Homo sapiens: one gene and its partners. The protein of the gene in region 2 purifies or fractionates together with the protein of the main gene of each other region. This does not show direct contact. Each region holds a gene or a part of one and is shown on either strand. Other genes may lie near its edges.

Region 1 (3,518 bases), on a different chromosome or scaffold from region 2:
TCCTATTCGAATAGTCACATTGACCTCACTTTCATGGCGGTATGGTGAACCCCAGTCAGAGGCTCTAACAATGAATCTGTAAATTTCTGGGGAGGATTCAAAATCCAGTTCTTCAGTTGTGCTAATAACACCTGTAAACTGATTAATGACAAATGGTAACAAATTCAGGCTAGCGATACTATAGGTGATGTACCCATTTTCTCCTTTATCCTTATCAGAAGCTGAAACTGTTAGAACGCTGGTTCCCACTGGGACACTTTCATTCACATAAGCATCATACAGTGGTTGCTGAAATTCTGGGGTGTGGTCATTTGCATCTTCTATGCTGATGGTGACCTGTGCTTTTAAATCTCCTTCCTTGTTTGTCACCTCCAGTTTATAAACCTCCTTCTTAACAGTATTCAGTGGCCGTGCTGTAACAATCAGACCCGACCGAGGATTAATTTTAAAGTACACTGCATCCTCACCAGGAGATAATTTGTATTCCACATCTATCGGTTCAGGACTTAATTTTACTATAGCAACCACGACACCAGGAGGGGAAAATTCACTTATGCTCACATCGTACACTTCTTTTTCAAATCTAATGGGGACAGTGTCTCTTGTGGGGTTGCCAATGTAGACTGCCTTTAATGCTGAACATTTTTGAGGAGATCCCTTGTCTTTTGCTTGAAGAGTGAGATTGTAGCCATAGGGAAAGCTCTCCCAGTCAATCTGCTTCCTCTCCTTAATCTTGTACTCATTCAACCACTTTCCTTCCTTAGCCAGGAAGAACTGATCTAAAGGATCCCCAGCCACAATGGAAACAGATTCGATCTCTCCATTCGCTCCATCATCTAAGTCATCAACTGTCACCACTGCATATGTTGGCTCTTTTTCCAACGAGAAAGGAACATGAGTGACTACATGGATTGTTGGGGCATGTTCATTTATGCGCTCAATGTGAACATAAAGCTTTGCAGTACTGCTCACTCCATTGTTCCCATACAGTTTCATTCCCCGGTCCACAGCCAAAATTTCCAGATCATACCTATTCTTTTCATCATAATTTAATCGACCACTTAAGGAGATGACACCACTCGTGGGGTGAACTGAAAAGAGATCAACTTTATTTTTAAAGTAGTAGTAGAATTCTCCATTGGAACCAATATCTGCGTCTGTTGCAGTCACCTGGGCAACACTAGTCCTTAGAGGTGTGCTTTCTGCTATGGTAACAGAGTATGTTGTGGGTGAAAACAAAGGTCTCAGATCATTCATATCTAAAACCTGTATATTCACTTTGGTCCATGCTTCCAAATCCTCTCCTCTGACAGAACCTTTTACTATCAATAAATAATTATCCTGGATTTCCCTATTTAATATGGCAGAATTGCCACCTTTAGTTCTTATTCTGAGAAAACAGAAATCTGCAATGATGACTTCCTCTGCTTTGAAAAAGCCTTCCTCGTCTCCGGACACTATTCTGTATTTGATATCCCAGGATAGATCTATTAAGGTGATGCCCATTCTACTCTGGCTGTTGACGTAGGTCCTTGCTGCTGAGTTCTCATACACGGTAGCATTATAAATGGAATGTGTGAAGTGGAAGCCCAGGGGTCCAGTCCCTGGCAGCCCCTGGGAGACAGTGGCCAAAAGCTTGAAAAGCAGGAGGATGAGGCAACAAGCAGGAGGCCGTGTGCCCACACAGTGTCCCATAATTATATCCATCACATCATACTTCCATCCTGGAGGGAAGAAAGAGAGAGAGAAAAGATAAATTAACCATCCTAGAAGAAGGGGGAGAGTGGGAAATAACTATTAGGAAGCCATGCTTTTTAAAACTTTATCACAAAATCTTTTTACTAAAACAGCAATATAAGAAAAAATTAGAAACCTTGCCACTACTAGGTAATAAGGAACTTAAGATTACTAGAATTTAGCCCAATCTTGTAAGAATTGTTTTCAAGTGACACTTTGTTTTAAATAACACTTTTATACTACTGACAGCGTTGTTCATTGGTACAAGATTTCTTACATTCTGAAGGTCAATTTAGAGATATATTGGAAGCCTTAAGTGCATTTACCTTTGACTTAGAACTGCCTTTGCAGTAATTATCCTATAGAAACATTTAGACAATTATCTGTTATAGCACAGTTTAAAGTAAAAAAAAAATGAAGAGATGCTAAATGCCTATCAATAGAGGACTGAATAATTCATGGTGTATTCATAAAATAAAATATTATGCAGTCATTAAAAATAGAGACATAAAAGATGTGCATTTTCAGATGCAGTAAGATGTAATGCTAAGGAAAAAAGGTCATCAAACAGTATATATAGCATGAGTTCTATTATTATATAAACACCTATATGTGCAAATGAATTTTTATATTTAAAAAGGATTAACTGTGTTTTGGGATTTGGTGGCATATTTGCATTTTCTAACTTTTCTTCAATGAACATTGTTCATCAATAGTTACATAATTACTTTTATAATTATAATCTTTTTAAAATGCTTCAAGGTATTACCATCTTTTATTGTGCTTACTTTTAAACTGATCAAGGTTTATGAATAATGCAATGCCATGAGAATGAACAAAGTGTCAAGTTACAAAGCAGAGACAATAATCCCTAAGGAGTTATATGACTGGAGTGATATCCAGAACTATTCAGAACAAGGGAGGTAAGAGTGATTACTTGCAAGAAAAACTTTAGAAATTACAAGAGATACTTCCAATTACTTTCATCAATGACTATTAAATTTGGACAGTTTCTACAGTTTCATGACTATGTGGGTTAAAAGATACAAACTTTTTCCTATTTTAGCCAGTAAAATCAATCAAGGAGAAGGGAGAAAGGAGGTATTCAACAAGAAAAAGTTAAGTCTATTCATACCCAAAGGATCAGATTTTTAGAACCCCCAAATATGAGTTCTTCCATCCAGTCTTATACTCTGCAAGCCCTTGACATTCTCCTTTTCTTCCTTTACAGGGAACGTGAAGATGAGAGGAGATGGAAAATGAATTTCTTTGCAGGCATGTAATGATGTAGGCACTGTGTCAGTCATTTTTCCACTTTGTTGTATTTAATCTTCATGATAATCCTAAGTAATAGGTACTATTTTACCCAATGACATATTAGAAAACTGAGGGTCAGAGAAGTTAATCTATTTAGTTGAGACATTTGCCCAAACAATGTTCCCCAGCCGGCAAGTAGTAAAGCAGGATCTCAGACCTTAATCTTTCTCTAAAATCCATGCTTTTCCCCATCACACAATCACTCTCTCAAAATTACCTGCAAGCAAGAATGAAATAATTAAGGATCCTAGAAGCATATATGACATAATTTAATTCTAATGAAATAGTCAACATATGTCATTGATTTTAAAAAGTACAACCCATCCCTGCCCCCAGCATATCTTTTTGGTTATCTCCTCTCTGGTTTTAATGTAGTTCTAGTTATTGGCTGCAAACTGAAAAAAAAAAAAATCCCTACAGGAGTTTAACATATTAAAATATTACAAATTGTATGGTTTATAAAA
Region 2 (4,187 bases):
TTTTAGAAATGGGGCCTACGTTGCTCAGAACTCCTAGCCTCAAGGGATCCTCCCACCACAGCCTGTGGAGTTGCTGGGATTACAGGTGAAAGTCACCATGCTGGCTCACATTTTAAGTTGGAATCACAAAACTAATTTCTTTTGCATCCTAGTGAACTAAATTGTCGTAAACATTGTATGTGCTTATACCAACATATACACGTTATTCTTAAATTTAATCACAAACTTTAATGTTAAAATATCAGTGTATCTAACAATCTATGTTATTTTATACCTAAGTATTTTTTTGAGATGGGATCTCACTCTGTCGACCCCTTTGGAGCGCAGTGGCACAATCATAGCTCACTGCAATCTCCACCTTCCAGGATCAAGCGATCTCCCTACCTCACTGGGACTACAGGTAAACTTTTGTATTTGTTTTTCTATTTCTAGAGATGAGGTCTCCCTGTGTTGCCCAGGCTAGTCTCAAACTCCCAGGCCCAAGCGATCCTCCTGAATAGCTGGGATCACAGGTGTGCGCCCCTACGCCTGGCTAATTTTTTTTTTTTTTTCTAGAGATGGAGGTCTCACTATGTTGCCCAGGCTGTTCCCCAACTCCTGGGCTGAAGCTATCCTCCCGGCCTCTCAAAGTGCTGGGATTACAGGCGTGAGCCACTGCTTTCGGCCCTTAATTCTACATTAGCCAGAATTCAAAGGCATTTACCCACTTAAGAAAATAGGGCACTCTCAGCTTGTTGAGATTCACAGTACACTGATAATGCTTATCTCACAGAGAGATATTCCTGAAAATCATGATTTTAAAGACTGCGCCATATGCTGGCATGTCTGCACCAGAATTTCCTTTGCGCCTCCCTGTTGGTTTGCTCCACTTTTTCACTGAGTCAGACCGTTGAACACCGTGGACACACTGTCTTGCGTTTCCGAATATTTCCTAGAATACGGACGTTTCCTAAGACTCACGATAAAGATTTTCTGATCGTCTCTCCAAAACCTTGCCACCAATTTGCACTCCCACGAATCCTGTTACCGTGACTATCTCGCCATGCCCTCCCTAGCACTGAGCGTGATCTCTAGTATCATTTTCCATCGTTGCTAATTTGAACATGAGCAGATGGAGTCCTATTATTTGGGGTCATTAATTTCGTAGCAAGTGCAGTTGAAGGTGTTTTGCATGTTCATTGTGCAGTGCGCGCCGTAGTCTGCACAGTTTGGCCGGCAGGTGGGATGAAGGGCGGGGCTGGCGGAGCGCGCCCGCCGCCTGGTAGGCCAGTTCGGAGCGGAGCCAACGCTATCCCGGGCCCCACGGCCAGGGGGCGCTGCGGCCCCCCCAATCCCCCGCCCCGTCCGGGCTGGGGCGGAGGAGCGGGCGGGGACCAAAGGTTGGTGTCTTTGCGCTCGGACCTTCGCCAGAGGGGCCGGGACATCATGACGGTGGGAGCCAGGCTCCGAAGCAAGGCGGAGAGCAGCCTCCTGCGCCGCGGGCCCCGAGGGCGAGGGCGAACCGAGGGGGACGAGGAGGCGGCCGCCATCCTGGAGCACCTGGAGTACGCGGACGAGGCGGAGGCGGCGGCCGAGAGCGGGACGAGCGCGGCGGACGAGCGGGGCCCGGGGACCCGGGGCGCGCGGAGGGTGCACTTCGCCCTCCTGCCCGAGCGCTACGAGCCACTGGAGGAGCCGGCGCCGAGCGAGCAGCCCAGGAAGAGGTACCGGAGGAAGCTGAAGAAGTACGGCAAGGTAGGGGCCCTGCGCCACCACTGCCCGGGGGGCGCGGGTGTGGTGTCCCGCGGGGGAGCGGGAGCCGGGTCCTTACCATCGACTCACCCAGTTTCTCCGGGCTGCACCTGCGACCCCTCCGCCCCCGCTCCCATTCCCTCGCCGGAGGGAAGCCGCGAGTTGCGAGTCGTGATAGAAACTTAAATCGGGGGTTGCGCTGGGTGGTCCCTGCTGTGCCTGCTATTGCGCTCCTGGCTTCTTAAGAACATTCTCAAGGGGCTCCTACCGCGGTGGTTTTTATGTAAGATCAGGAATCAGTTTCCTGATTACAGATGGGAATACTGAAGCGTTAGCGCGGCAGGTGACTTGGAGAAGGTGGCCCAGTTGGAAAGAAAGAAATTGCAACCCAGTGTATTTGTTTTCCAGTAACATCCCCTCCAGGATATCCCACTAGTTGAGAAATGTTTGGGTTACTCTCCCAAATATTCCCAAGGTTATTTCCCGAGCCTGGGAGCGCAACAAATACATAAATAGGCGCTCGTTGAATTTTTCTCGTCTAGCCAACTATCAGTGTACTCTGGGGCCTTCAAAACATTCTGCCGTTTGTCTCGGGGAGATGGGGTTAGGAAGAATGAATATGGGAGAAAATGACAGTTTCCTTCGCGGAAATCAAAGCGCAGATGCAGTTCCCAGGTGTCTCTGCATGGAAACAGTCGAAGCTGCTGCCGGAAGCTCTGCTGGCCTGGACAAGGCCACCCAGAATAAAGTCACAGAAGTTACTGTGTCCTGGCCAAAGGCCACGGGCCCCATCTGATTTATTGTCTATTTATCTGTGTTGCCCAATGCCGTCTTACACCTGAAGCCATTCAGTCTCCATGCCTGGGAGCTTAGGTTTATCATCCTCTTTAAAGGTATGTCAGCAGCTTCTGGAGCAGAATACAGGCAGGGGTAAAACTATAAAGTTGGGTCTTTCAGGCTTAGAGCCCTGCTAGGACGATTCATCTCTGCTTTGGGTCCCAGTTGAGCACAAAGAAGCCATCATGTCCCTCTCCATTGGTGAACTGATACTGCAGAAACCTCAGCTCAAGGACTAGGACTTGAAGATATTTTGGGGGCACTCATTATGCGTCAGGCATTGTGCTGAGCAGTAGAGATGCGAAAATGAATACAGTGCAGCCCTGCCCTAGAGAAGGGCACAGCCTCCCAGGGAGACACTGACATAGCTGGCTCCCCCCGCCCCCGGGGGGGCTTCAGGGCACAGAGCTCAGGCAGTTCACTCCTCAGCGGTGAGCTTGTAAACTCAGGGAAGTTTTCAAATCACGGTGACATGAAAACTGGGCACAGAAGGATGAGTTAAGATTTCACCAGATAACAGTGAAGTGGTATGAAGTAGGCACACTTCATCCCCACTAGAACGGCTACTCCAAAAAATGTCCAAACAAACCGAATAACAAATGTTGGCGAGAATGTAGAGAAATTGGAACCATTGTACATTGCTGGTGGGAATGTAAAATGGGACAGCTGCTGTGGAAAACAATTTGGGAGTTCCTTAAAAAGTTCAGTGTAGACTTATTCTGTGATCTAGCAGTTCCACTCCTAGGGATGTAACCAAAGAATTGAAAACAGGTACTCAAATCAATGTTTATATACACATTTTAATGGAATTATTATTTACAATAGTCAAAAGGTGGAAACAACCCAAATGTCCCTAAATGGATGAATGCATAAACAAGTGTGTTATATACATACAATGGAATAGTATTCAGCCATAAAAGGAAGGAAATGTACTAATCCATGCTACAATATGATGAACCTCTAAAAATATTATGCTAAGTGAAGTAAACAAGACCCGCAAGATCACATATTGTGCGTATGATTCCATTTGTATGGAATGCTTAGGATAGGTCAACCCATGGAGATGGAACACAGATTGGTGGTTGCCAGGGACTGCGGGAAAGAGGAATGGAGCCCATCTGCTTAATGGGTAATGTGTTTTTTCCTGGGGATGATGAAAATGTTTTGGAACTAGATAGAAGTGGTGGTTGCACAACAATGTAAATGTACTAAATGCCACCGGGCTGTACGCACTTTAAAATGGTGAATTTTATGTTATGTGAATTTTGCCTTAACTAAAACAAACAAAAAAAACAAGATTTCAGTGGATAGAGAAGTGGTGTCATCTCAGGTAGAGGGGCCATCACAAGCCCAGCTGTGGGCATGAAAGCTCTAGAGTGTTGCACGCTAGTTCAATGGACCCAGGAGGCCAGGTGAGAGGATGTCGTCAGGTTAGGGTTGGATCTCTCCTTTCTGCCCTTCAAAAGTGACTTCAGCTTCTACTTTCTTGGAGCCACCTGAGAGGGTCACCAGGCTCAAACATGGAGATATAAAGCAGGTGACCCCTCTTTGTTCCCCGAGACCCCAGCTCCCCTCTGAGAGAGTAGTTGGGTAGAAAGCTCTACTCAGATCAAAGAATT
Region 3 (3,518 bases), 6.4 Mb from region 2:
GTTCTCAACCTTGGGTTCCCCAGAATTAATGATGGGGTCTGGGATTAGTTTTCAGTATTTTTCAAAACCTAATGGAAATAATATAATATACCTACACAGGTAAACCTTCTTCAAAAAAGAGCCTTTTCTCACTCCAAAGTCTTAGGCACTTTAATATTCTTTTAATAAGAAAAAACAAATATTTATAGAGAGAAATGGAAGAAAACAGAATTTTCCACATTGCAAGGATATCAGGGTTCCTTCTGCCTTTTACTTTCAGCACAATTGTTTCAACAGCAGCAAGGAGCCATCCTTTAAGACTTCAAATGTGCCAGTAACTCACGTTATTTTTCATATGCGGGGAACATAATTTCTGTTATAGCTTATAGGGGCTCAGTGACCAAGCTGCACGTTTGGAACCGATTTCAGATGAAAGAGACAGAATAACAGCAGGATATCCTGAAGTGAAATTCAAACCCTGGTGAGTTAAAACCACCATCTAACACCTTTCCCTCCCGAAGCAATTGCACAGAATCCTCTCAATCAAAAAAAATTCGAAGAACCTGTATAAAATGGCATTTCTTTAAATCATATTGCTCTTTGCAGCCCATAAAGCATTTCCAGATACATTCTTATTTTGATCCTTCCAAGGATGGCTGGTATACACAGGGCCTTATTCCATTTTACATAGAAAGAAACTGAGTGTTAGAGAAGTTAAGTGGTTTCTCTGAATTTCACACCTTTTTTGTCAAATATTTATTGAGTGCCTCTTAAAGGCCGGACTCCATGACCTTCAAGGATGGAGCCAAATCTCCCTGTTCCTCGTGTGATCTTCCTGTGCCCCCCTTTGGCCTGAACCTACTGTGTGGTTCACCCAGGGACTTCACCCTACATTACTACTGTGTGGTTCCCTGGAGACTGGGGGCTTAATCCGTCTCTGATATCTCCTTGATTGAATAGAATTTATAATTGGCCAACAATTTAACAAACGAATGCATTGTTTAAAGAATTATTTAAAGTTTTAAAAAATGTTTGATTCAGCCATCTTAGATCTATATTTTATGCTGATATGGACTTAAACATGTTGTTTTTATTATAATGCTTTGAAATTTGCATAAGAGCTACACATATTCTTTTATATGTATGAATTATTATGTAATAAAACATAAAAAGAACATGAGGCTTTGGTCCTTTTGTAGGCTTGGAATATTTTTAATATTACGCTAGGACTAAACCAGAGTTAGTCATCTCAGCCTTTATACCTACATATAAAGAGTTTGTTTCTGTGCCGTGTGATAGGGCAGCATCAGCCCATAGTCTTTTTTTTTTTTTTTTCCTTAAGCAAATCCATTCTTCAGGATCTCTCTCTGCAGAAGTTAAATCTCTTGAGTTGTGGAAATGGAATTTATGGTGCAGCTATAGGAGGCAGCCCCTGGTTGGTATTCCTGTAGAACAGGCAAGTTGCACACCACCTGTGAGAAGGTTCTTGTAAAAATATGTTAAATTTCTTTGAGAAGATCCAGGGCTCACTGCTATAGTTTGGCAGGAACCTGGTCTTTGGGAGAACTCAGAATTGGTGAGAATTCAGGACAGCAAAATTGTCTCTTTTAGGATTTGATATAGTGAGAGAATTGCAAAGGAAGTTTCTACTGTATTTGGGTGTTTTAGGCTTACTGCTTTGAACTTAGGTTAATATTCCCTCCTCTTTTCCCTGTCAGTATAAAAATATGAAATAATTACTGTTTTATGCCACTTTATTTCTGTCCTCGAAGGAAGCAATCAATAATTAAAAGCATGCTTTGTCTTCCTGGAGTCATGAATAATTAAATTGACTCCCCCCATCCACACACATCTTTTTTTGGACCTCAGATGTAGTTGAGGTAATCATACTTCTGAGTTCAAGGCATGCTTTTATCTGGTATATGCAAGGCAAATTTGATTTTTCAGAATGTTCCCTCTCATTTCCTGCTCTTCTCACAGACAGCTCCTCTATGGGTTTGGTTACGTATCTTTGAATACATGTGTATGTGTGTCCTGATGATCACTAGGGAACTAGACACACCTAGAACAAGGCACCCTGATTTTACTTGGCAGATTCAGACCTTGAGCTCTCTTCTGATCCTCCTGCTCACTCAGCGTTTTTCTGTGGCTGTGTCAGGGCAGGGGCCCCTGCACTGGCCCCTTCCTCCTGATGAGTGGCCTGTTCTGACACTTGAGGGAGGCAGGGCATTTTGAGGTCTCCTTTGCCTCTCAGGAACTTGCATTGTTAGCCCACCCACATCCCCAACCTTCACTTCTTTGGATTTCTAGGAAATCTGCAGTAGTTTAGGGGTGCAGTCCTTTGGCAGGGAATTAACTGAAGTACCTGCCTTTTCAGGGGTTGAACCCATGACCTTGGCCTCATTAGAGCTCTAACCAGTCACAAAGCACACACCTCACTTTGTGTAACTTCTGCTGACTTGTTCCTGCCACCCTCCGCGGCTTCCTATTCAATTGCAAAGGCGTTCACACCAACACAATAGAACAGAAGGAAATCAGATCTCTTCAAGACTTCTCTGAAGGACAGAAATATGCAATTTAGCAGGAAAATAATACAAAAAAGTCTTGAAGGTTCAGGAAACAACTTATCTTTCTAGTCCGTACATTCGCTGAGAATCCAGCTGTGTCTCTCAGATTCTTTTTCAATCAAAAATTTAAAAATAGCGTGGAACTCCTTGTGTTAATTTATTAACATAAAATCTAGCGACTCTTGTACATGAAGTGGAAGGTTTCGGATGACTAAGTGGAAATATTGTATGTATGTTATTAAAATGGATTGGGTTAGCTTTTATAGAAAAAGTGGATCTGAGAATTCATAAGTGCTTATCTTTGGCAAGTTTATAGTCCCTAGAGATAAAAATGAATGCGTGCTATAATAACAAAGACACTGTTGTGTCTTAGTGAGTGCACTGTGATGCTCAGGGTGTGTTGGTGCCCAGGGGACGCGGAGTCACCATGGAGGAGAGGAGAAACAAGGACAACTCCCTAGAGAAGTGAAATTCACACAGGGCTTGAAGACCTGAATGTATCTTGGGGGAGGGACGTGGTAAGATAATCTGGCTGTCCAAAAAGATACAGGTTTTTATTAGAGCCAAATAAAAAGCTCAAGGATTTTATGTCTTGGCACTTGGAAGGAGTTATGTTGAAATCTGTGTTCTGTTTAATCTGAGTACCAAGAAAGACTCTTCAGGGATGTAGGTACTGGCTCATATTTTTGATGAGATGGGGATTTTTCTTACTCTGGTGATGTTTGGATAGGAAACATTTGCTCATTTGCCACCTGAAAAATCTCTTCTCTGTCAATTCCGTGAATCCATGGTACAGTGACAGTTGCTGTTCACAGTGATAGCCTCATATGCTCTTAAAACCTCACCAATAAGACACATTTAATTATGAGCCAATAGTATACTCCCTAAGGGTAGGAATTCTACTTTTTAACTCAATCAAAAACATTTGTATTTGTGGACACTTAGTGGGTTCTATAGTTCTGGAAAACAACT
Region 4 (3,518 bases), on a different chromosome or scaffold from region 2:
GCTGTCCCTGCCTTGGAGCTATTGTGAAAGTCTATGCACAAAAACTGAAACAGGAAATAAAAAATAACCCGGCCCTTCCAAACCCCAAAACAAACCCAAAAAAAGCTGTACATTTTTTTTACACATAGGATTAATAATATAGGCATATAGGTGGCATGATTCAATTAAAAGGCTTTACTTTTTATGCCAGAAAAAACCCAATAAATAAAAGGTGCTAAAATTAGCATTAAGAATTTGGTTGTAATATACTGACAAATCTGGGAAGGCAAATCCTCAAAGCTCCCCTGATACTGATCTGTCTCAGCAAACTACAAAGCAAATACATAAATAATGCAAAATATGATTGAGAATGTGAGATTTTTAAAAACAAAGACAACATAATTCAGGTTAACTCTGTTGAACAGTCAATAAATGAAATTCATCTACACCTGAATAAAACATATTTAACAATTGAAAAAATTTTAAACAACCACAAAAAGTAAAAACTTTAAACAAACATGAACAGGATTTGTTTTTAGGGCACACAAAGGCCCCTGCAGCAGATTCCAACAGTAGCTTTACTGGTGTGTCTTCTACAGATGAGTTAAAGAGACAGGCTGAGCTCCACACAGGCAAGATGACTAACAGGGCGACAGGACAGTCACACAGGGCGGAGTGCCACACCCGGCTATAATCCCCAGATTCCACTGCAGAGCTGGCTTTGTGCGTAGGAGGCACACAAAGAAAGGTGATTCAGGCAGACATTATTCAAAAGCTACTTCGTCGTGTAACCATTGAATAATGTTTGGGAAAGCTTTGGGCTTTGTATTTTTTTTTTAAGTTTTACTCCTTGTATTTAACTTCTTAAATAACAAGGTCACTAAAACTCATGCACGCTGCAAAAAACCTCATGCAGTAGTTAAGGTAAACCATCCAAGCAGTTTTTATTCATTAATATTCATAAATACACACAGCAGCTTCATTAGAGATTTCAATTTTCCTCTTCAGTTTGAATGTGGAGTATTAGGAGAGCCTTTTGCATGTCAAGGTACAGGAAGCAGAGATCACCCCTGCACTGCTACCTACATTTACCTGCTAGAAGTAAAAATTAGTTAAGTGGAAATGATTATCATATATATTTTCTCTCTTCCTTTTGAATGTACACAATGTAACAAGAGTGACAGACCTGAAATTACAATCACCAAACAAACCCAAGATAGTTGTTGTCCACTTTCATTGGCAAATACAGCACAGAGGACATTGTCTGCGAATTGGGATGTCATCAAAGAGGAGGTGGTGGAGGCTCATTTCCTTTATTACTCTCTTTTAAATTTAGGTTTTCTAAAGCAACATCTAAAGGCATAATATCTACACAGCCCATAGCACCAAAATCTGCCATCTCCCCCCGATCATCCTCATCTGAGGATGAGCTCTCTTCACGCACTAAAGTGGACAGAAGGAGCTCTTGGACAAACAGGCTGCGGTCTGCACGCTCGCTTTCCATGGACTGGCGCTCCGTTTCAGACATTTTAGGATCATTCAACCTGTGTAAGTTAAAAAGAAAAGACCTTATTGTTAAAAAGTCAATGAACAATGGCATGGCCAATTTCTACAGTGCTCTCCACTGTGAAGTTTTACAGGTGGCAAAATTCAGAATGAGACATTGCTGGAATACTTGGCTGTAATTTATCCTTAATTGTGTTGAGACGAATTCCCCACACTTGTTGCAATACTGTTACCTGGAGGTGCAAATCTATGCTTTAATTAGACTCAATGAGAAAAAAAAAGACATTTAGACTTTTTCCACTCCAGAGAAAGCTAGGTGAAAATTTTCTAAGGAAAACAGGATTTCTTACAGATTAGATGCTTGGGAAAGTATCTAACCAGAATTTCATCTGGGGGTAAATAAAAAGAGGAAAATAAAACACAAAAACAAAATCTGCAGTGAACAGAATATTCAACTGAAAAATATCCTAAGATTTCCTCTGACTTTTCTCTATTACTCTATTTAATTCTTCTTGGTATATGCAGAAGCTAGAAAGGGCAAGAAAACACATACATACAAACTCCTACATTTCTTCTACCAAGGACCTACAGTGTAGCAGGGCAGACACAAGGTCTACCTGCCTGACTTGCTCCCCTGATGCATGTACTTATGAGATCTGGGCTATGCTGGGAAACCTGGCTCATCTGCACAGAGACTAGACAAATTTCTTGATGAAATATAACATTTAGGATATAAATGAAACTGCAAGGCTTGTGAGGATCTTCAAGTTGGGGTTAGCAAAATGAACTGGTCCCACTGTCAAAAGATTAGATCTGGCCAGGCACGGTGGCTCATGACTGTAATCCCAGCACTTTGGGAGGCCAAGGCGGGCGGATCACCTGAGGTCAGGAGTTTGAGACCAGCCTGGCTAATGTGGTGAAACCCCATTTCTACTAAAAATACAAAAAATTAGCCAGGTGTGGGGGTGCGTGCCTATAATCCCAGCTACTCGGGAGGCTGAAGTAGGAGAATCGCTTAAACCTGGGAGGCGGTGGTTGCAGTGAGCCGAGATCGTGCCATTGCACTCCAGCTTGGGCAACAAGAGCGAAATTCTATCTCAAAAAAAGACCGATCTGACTTACACACTCCAATAATCACTTTCTAAAAGGTCAACTATCTTGGACTTCAAAGAAACTGTGACCTTACCATCAGTTGCAGGGCAACATGAATAGGAACTGCCCCTGGTCAAAGAAAAGACCAAAAATAAGGCTTGGGCCCTATATATATCACATAAGAGCTGTGTGACCAGAGAGCAGGATCTCCCCTGCATACACTGCAGCCGTTCTCCTTGCCTTGAAAATTCACAATGCATGTTAATATATTTGAAGTTCTAAGAAGCCCAACAGTAAATAATCTCTTAATTTTCCTTACTTTGCTTTCTGCAACCTTATTAATTGGGGGTGGAAGAACATAAGTAATTACATATATTCCTTTGAATATATGAAGTTAAGAGAGTATTTCTGGGGAAATATTGCCTTAAATAAATCATATGAATATAATACAATAAAAGATGTGGAAAGTGGTTTGCAAACTGCATGGTACCATAGAATGTACAGTATCAGATGATAGAAGGGGGATTTCAAGAAGCTACAACCAGAATCCACAGACAGCACTCAGAGGTCACTCATACCATGCTCTGAGAGTTGGGTGTGGAATAAATGCACAGAAAAAAATTACAGATCAAGCTGAGTAGTTTGGGTCTTAAAAAAAAAAAGGATAGGGCAAGGGTGGGTAGGAAGATGTCTTTTCCAAAGGGCACTGGCAAGACATTCCACCCACAGTTCTGTGAACTCTCAGTAGAAATGCACGCTAGTAGATCTCCTTTTTGAGGTAGGGACTTAGATCTGGTATGTTATAGACCTGCTGCTGGTCAGTCCCTATGGGGAAGGCTACATGGCAGCAGGTAGCTCCATCTGTGGCTCTGTGGTTTTCTTACATTAAAGCAGCATTATCTGGTAATAACCAGGCACAGTTACTGACCTTGCAGAGATAA
Region 5 (3,518 bases), on a different chromosome or scaffold from region 2:
GAGTGGGTAAGCTGGGGCAGAAATGAAGGGAAAGGTCCTTTGCATTACCACCTGAGCTGTGTTTATTATGAAACAATCCCAATGCCAGGGAAGAGGCTGGGCTGAGCCTGACACTGAGAAAGGAGCTGCTCGCTCAGGTGCAAACTGACAGGACAACTCAGGGCAGGCCAGCAAAGAGGGAGAGCTCAGGCCCTGAACGTGGGCCACTCTGTCCTTCCCCATGACGAGGCTCAAGCTCTGGCGACTGAGCTAGCCATATGGACACACACCTCCTCACACTCAAAGATCTATAGCACTCCAGGGAGACTGTGCTTCCATCCAAGCTGAAGGGGAGGGAGCTGTAAGACAAATGCAAAGAGGCAGCAATAAGCAAGGGAACGGCAGCTGCGTGAATCTCAGCACCCAACACACCCTCAGAGCAGCTTAAAAAGAACAGGCAGATGGAAACCACAAAAGAGCCAGGGCTGCAATCCTGCTATCAACGTGGAATTCAGGGCAAAACACATTAAATATGACACGGAAGGACACTTTTTTTTTTTTTTTTTTGAAACAGAGTTTCACTCCGTCACCTAGGCTGGAGTGCAGTGGCACAATCTCGGCTCATTGTAACCTCCGCCTCCCGGGTTCAAGTGATTCTCCTGCCTCAGCCTCCCGAGTAGCTGGGATTGTAAGTATGTGCCACCATGCCTGGCTAATTTGTGTATTTTGAGTAGAGACAAGGTTTCACCATGTAGGCTGGACTGGTCTCGAACTCCTGACCTCAGGGGATCTGCCCGCCTTGGCCTCCCAAAGTGCTCGGATTACAGGTATGGGCCATGCCCAGCCAGAAGGACACTTCTAATACTAAAAGCCATAATTCACAGTGAATCTATAACAAGTTATGAAAATCTGTCACCAAAAAATGCACCAACTTCCTTCATAAATCAGAAACACGCTAATAGGTAATTTTGTAGAAAATGAACTAAGAGTACATAATCCTAAATAAGATAGACTCACAGATATGCTAAACTGTATACAGATAATAGAGAATACAACTTCTCAAGCAAAACACGGAACACTAAAAAATATTGATCAGGGCCGGGCGCGGTGGCTCACGCCTGTAATCCCAGCACTTTGGGAGGCCGAGGTGGGCGGATCACTTGAGGTCAGGACTTCAAGACCAACCTGGCCAACATGGTGAAACCCTGTCCCTACTAAAAATACAAAAAAAAATGAGCCAGGCGTGGTGGCAGATGCCTGGAATCCCAACTACTCGGGAGGCTGAGGCAGGAGAGTCGCTTGAACCTGGGAGGCAGAGGTTGCAGTGAGTCAAGATCGCACTTGGGCACTCCAGCCTGGGTGACAGAGTGAGACTACATCTGAAAAAAATATATATATATATAGATAGATCAGTAGATGATAAATAAGATGACAAGGAAGTTATGTAAATGTAAGAATTATAAACACTCTCTGATCAGACACATTAAAGTTAATCAGAATAACATGAGAAATTAATTGCAAGATCAAAAAGGCCCTTCCATCTAGAAATTAACAAACAAAAACAATCATAATACTTCTATTAGACAACTCCTGGGTGAAGGAGAAAATATAAATAAAAATTACAGAATTTCTAAAAATAACAAGGAAAGTATTAAATACAGAACCCCCAGAATACACTTAAAGCAGCAATCAGCAAAAATTCACAGCCTCTAACATTTAGCAACAAAAGGGCAACAATGAAAATGAAAGAAGTTTCCAACTCAAAAAACTAGAACAACAAAGTAAGCCAAATAAAAATAAAAGCAGAAATTAAACAGACAATCAGTAGGTCTCATTAATAAATCAAAATCCGATGGGTTTTTCTTGTTTTTCCACTAAACAGACAAAGTACTAGTATTTAACTTAAGAAAAAAAGGAAGAGGCTGCGCACGGTGGCTCACACCTGTAATTCTAGCAGTTTGGGAGGCCGAGGTGGGCAGATCACGAGGTGAGGAGATCGAGACCATCCTGGCTAACACAGTGAAACCCTGTCTCTACTAAAAATACAAAAAAAAAATTAGCCAGGTGTGGTGGTGGGCACCCTGTAGTCCCAGCTACTCAAAAGGCTGAGGCAGGAGAATCGCTTGAACCTGGGAGGCGGGGGTTGCAGTGAGCCGAGATCGCGCCACTGCACTCCAGCCTGGGCAACAGAGCGAGACTCTGTCTCAAAAAAAAAAAAAGAACAAACACAAATATTCAAAATAAGAAGTGAGGCCGGGCGCAGTGGCTCATGCCTATAATCTCAGCACTGTGGGAGACTGAGGTGGGAGGATCGCTTGGGCCCAGGAGTTTGAGACCAGCCTGGGCAACATACTGAGACACTGTCTCTATTTTTTTTAATAGAAGAAATTTTTGCCGGGTGCAGCGGTTCATGCCTGTAATCCCAGCACTTTGGGAGGCCGAGTCGGGTGGACCACCTTATGTCGGGAGTTCGAGACCACCCTGACCAACATGGAGAAACCCTGTCTCTCCCAAAAATGCAAAATTAGCCAGACGTGGTGGCACATGCCTGTAATCCCAGCTACTAGGGAGGCTGAGGCAGGAGAATCGCTTGAACCCGGGAGGTGGAGGTTGCAGTGAGCCAAGATCGTGCCATTGCACTCCAGCCTAGGAAACAAGAGCGAAACTCCATCTCAAAAAAAAAAAAAAATTAAAAAATATAAGAAATGAGATCCAGCAATTCCACTACTGGGTATTTATCCAAAAGAAAGGAAATCAGTATACCAAAGAGATGTCTACACCCTCATGTTTACTGCCGCAGTATTCACAGTAGCCTAGATAGAGAATCAACCTGTGTCCATCAGTGGATGAACGAAGACAGAAAATGAGTTTATATACACAATTGAATATTATTCAGACATAAAGAATGAAATCTGATCATTTGTGGCAACATGAATAAGCCTGGAAGAGACTATGTTCAGTAAAATAAGCCAGACATAGAAAAGAAAGACAAATGCCAGCTGTTGTGGTGACTCACACTTGTAATCCCAACACTCTGGGAGGCCAAGGCGAGAGGATCACTTGAGCCCAGGAGTTCAAAACCAACCTGGTCAGTATAGCAAGACCCCGTCTCTACAAAAAAATAAAACATTAGCCAGGTGTGGTGGTAGGTGCCTGTAGTGCCAGCTACTCGGGAGGCTGAGATAGGAGGATCACTTGAGCCCAGGAATTGGAGGCTGCAGTGAGCCAAGATTATGCCACCACACTCCAGCCTGGGTGACAAAGCGAGAACCTGTCTCAAAAACCAAACAAACAACAAAAAAGACTACATGACTACATGATGTCACCCATTTACAGGATTTTTAAAAGCTCATGTCAAACATGTAGAGTAGAATAGTGATTATCAGAGGTTGGGGGTGGGGAGGTAGTGGGAGAGATTGGTCAATAGGTGTAAAATTACAGATCGAAGAAAGAAGTTCTGGTGTTCACAGTAGAGTGACTATACGGAACAACAGCTTATACCTCAAAATAGCTACTAGAAGACATGATTTTAAATGTTC

What was found.
Region 1: the proteins of C1orf115 (region 2) and FAT3 purify together in Homo sapiens (affinity purification with mass spectrometry; one large-scale study listed by BioGRID and IntAct). This does not show direct contact.
Region 3: the proteins of C1orf115 (region 2) and SMYD2 purify together in Homo sapiens (affinity purification with mass spectrometry; one large-scale study listed by BioGRID and IntAct). This does not show direct contact.
Region 4: the proteins of C1orf115 (region 2) and KCMF1 purify together in Homo sapiens (affinity purification with mass spectrometry; one large-scale study listed by BioGRID and IntAct). This does not show direct contact.
Region 5: the proteins of C1orf115 (region 2) and ANKS3 purify together in Homo sapiens (affinity purification with mass spectrometry; one large-scale study listed by BioGRID and IntAct). This does not show direct contact.

The regions. Positions count from the first base shown.
Region 1 is NC_000011.10:92,350,302-92,353,819, reverse strand, and holds part of FAT3 (protocadherin Fat 3 isoform 1 precursor), read right to left. Parts: intron 1,725-3,518; 5' UTR 1,708-1,724; coding exon 1-1,707.
Region 2 is NC_000001.11:220,688,978-220,693,164, forward strand, and holds the start of C1orf115 (required for drug-induced death protein 1), read left to right. Parts: upstream 1-1,385; 5' UTR 1,386-1,425; coding exon 1,426-1,734; intron 1,735-4,187. UniProt on the Homo sapiens protein: Regulates drug efflux through modulation of ABCB1 localization and activity.
Region 3 is NC_000001.11:214,287,641-214,291,158, forward strand, and holds part of SMYD2 (N-lysine methyltransferase SMYD2), read left to right. Parts: intron 1-3,518. UniProt on the Homo sapiens protein: Protein-lysine N-methyltransferase that methylates both histones and non-histone proteins, including p53/TP53 and RB1. Specifically trimethylates histone H3 'Lys-4' (H3K4me3) in vivo. The activity requires interaction with HSP90alpha.
Region 4 is NC_000002.12:85,051,153-85,054,670, reverse strand, and holds part of KCMF1 (E3 ubiquitin-protein ligase KCMF1), read right to left. Parts: intron 1,524-3,518; coding exon 1,262-1,523; 3' UTR 1-1,261. UniProt on the Homo sapiens protein: E3 ubiquitin-protein ligase which accepts ubiquitin from an E2 ubiquitin-conjugating enzyme and then transfers it to targeted substrates, promoting their degradation by the proteasome.
Region 5 is NC_000016.10:4,706,754-4,710,271, forward strand, and holds part of ANKS3 (ankyrin repeat and SAM domain-containing protein 3), read right to left. Parts: intron 1-3,518. UniProt on the Homo sapiens protein: May be involved in vasopressin signaling in the kidney.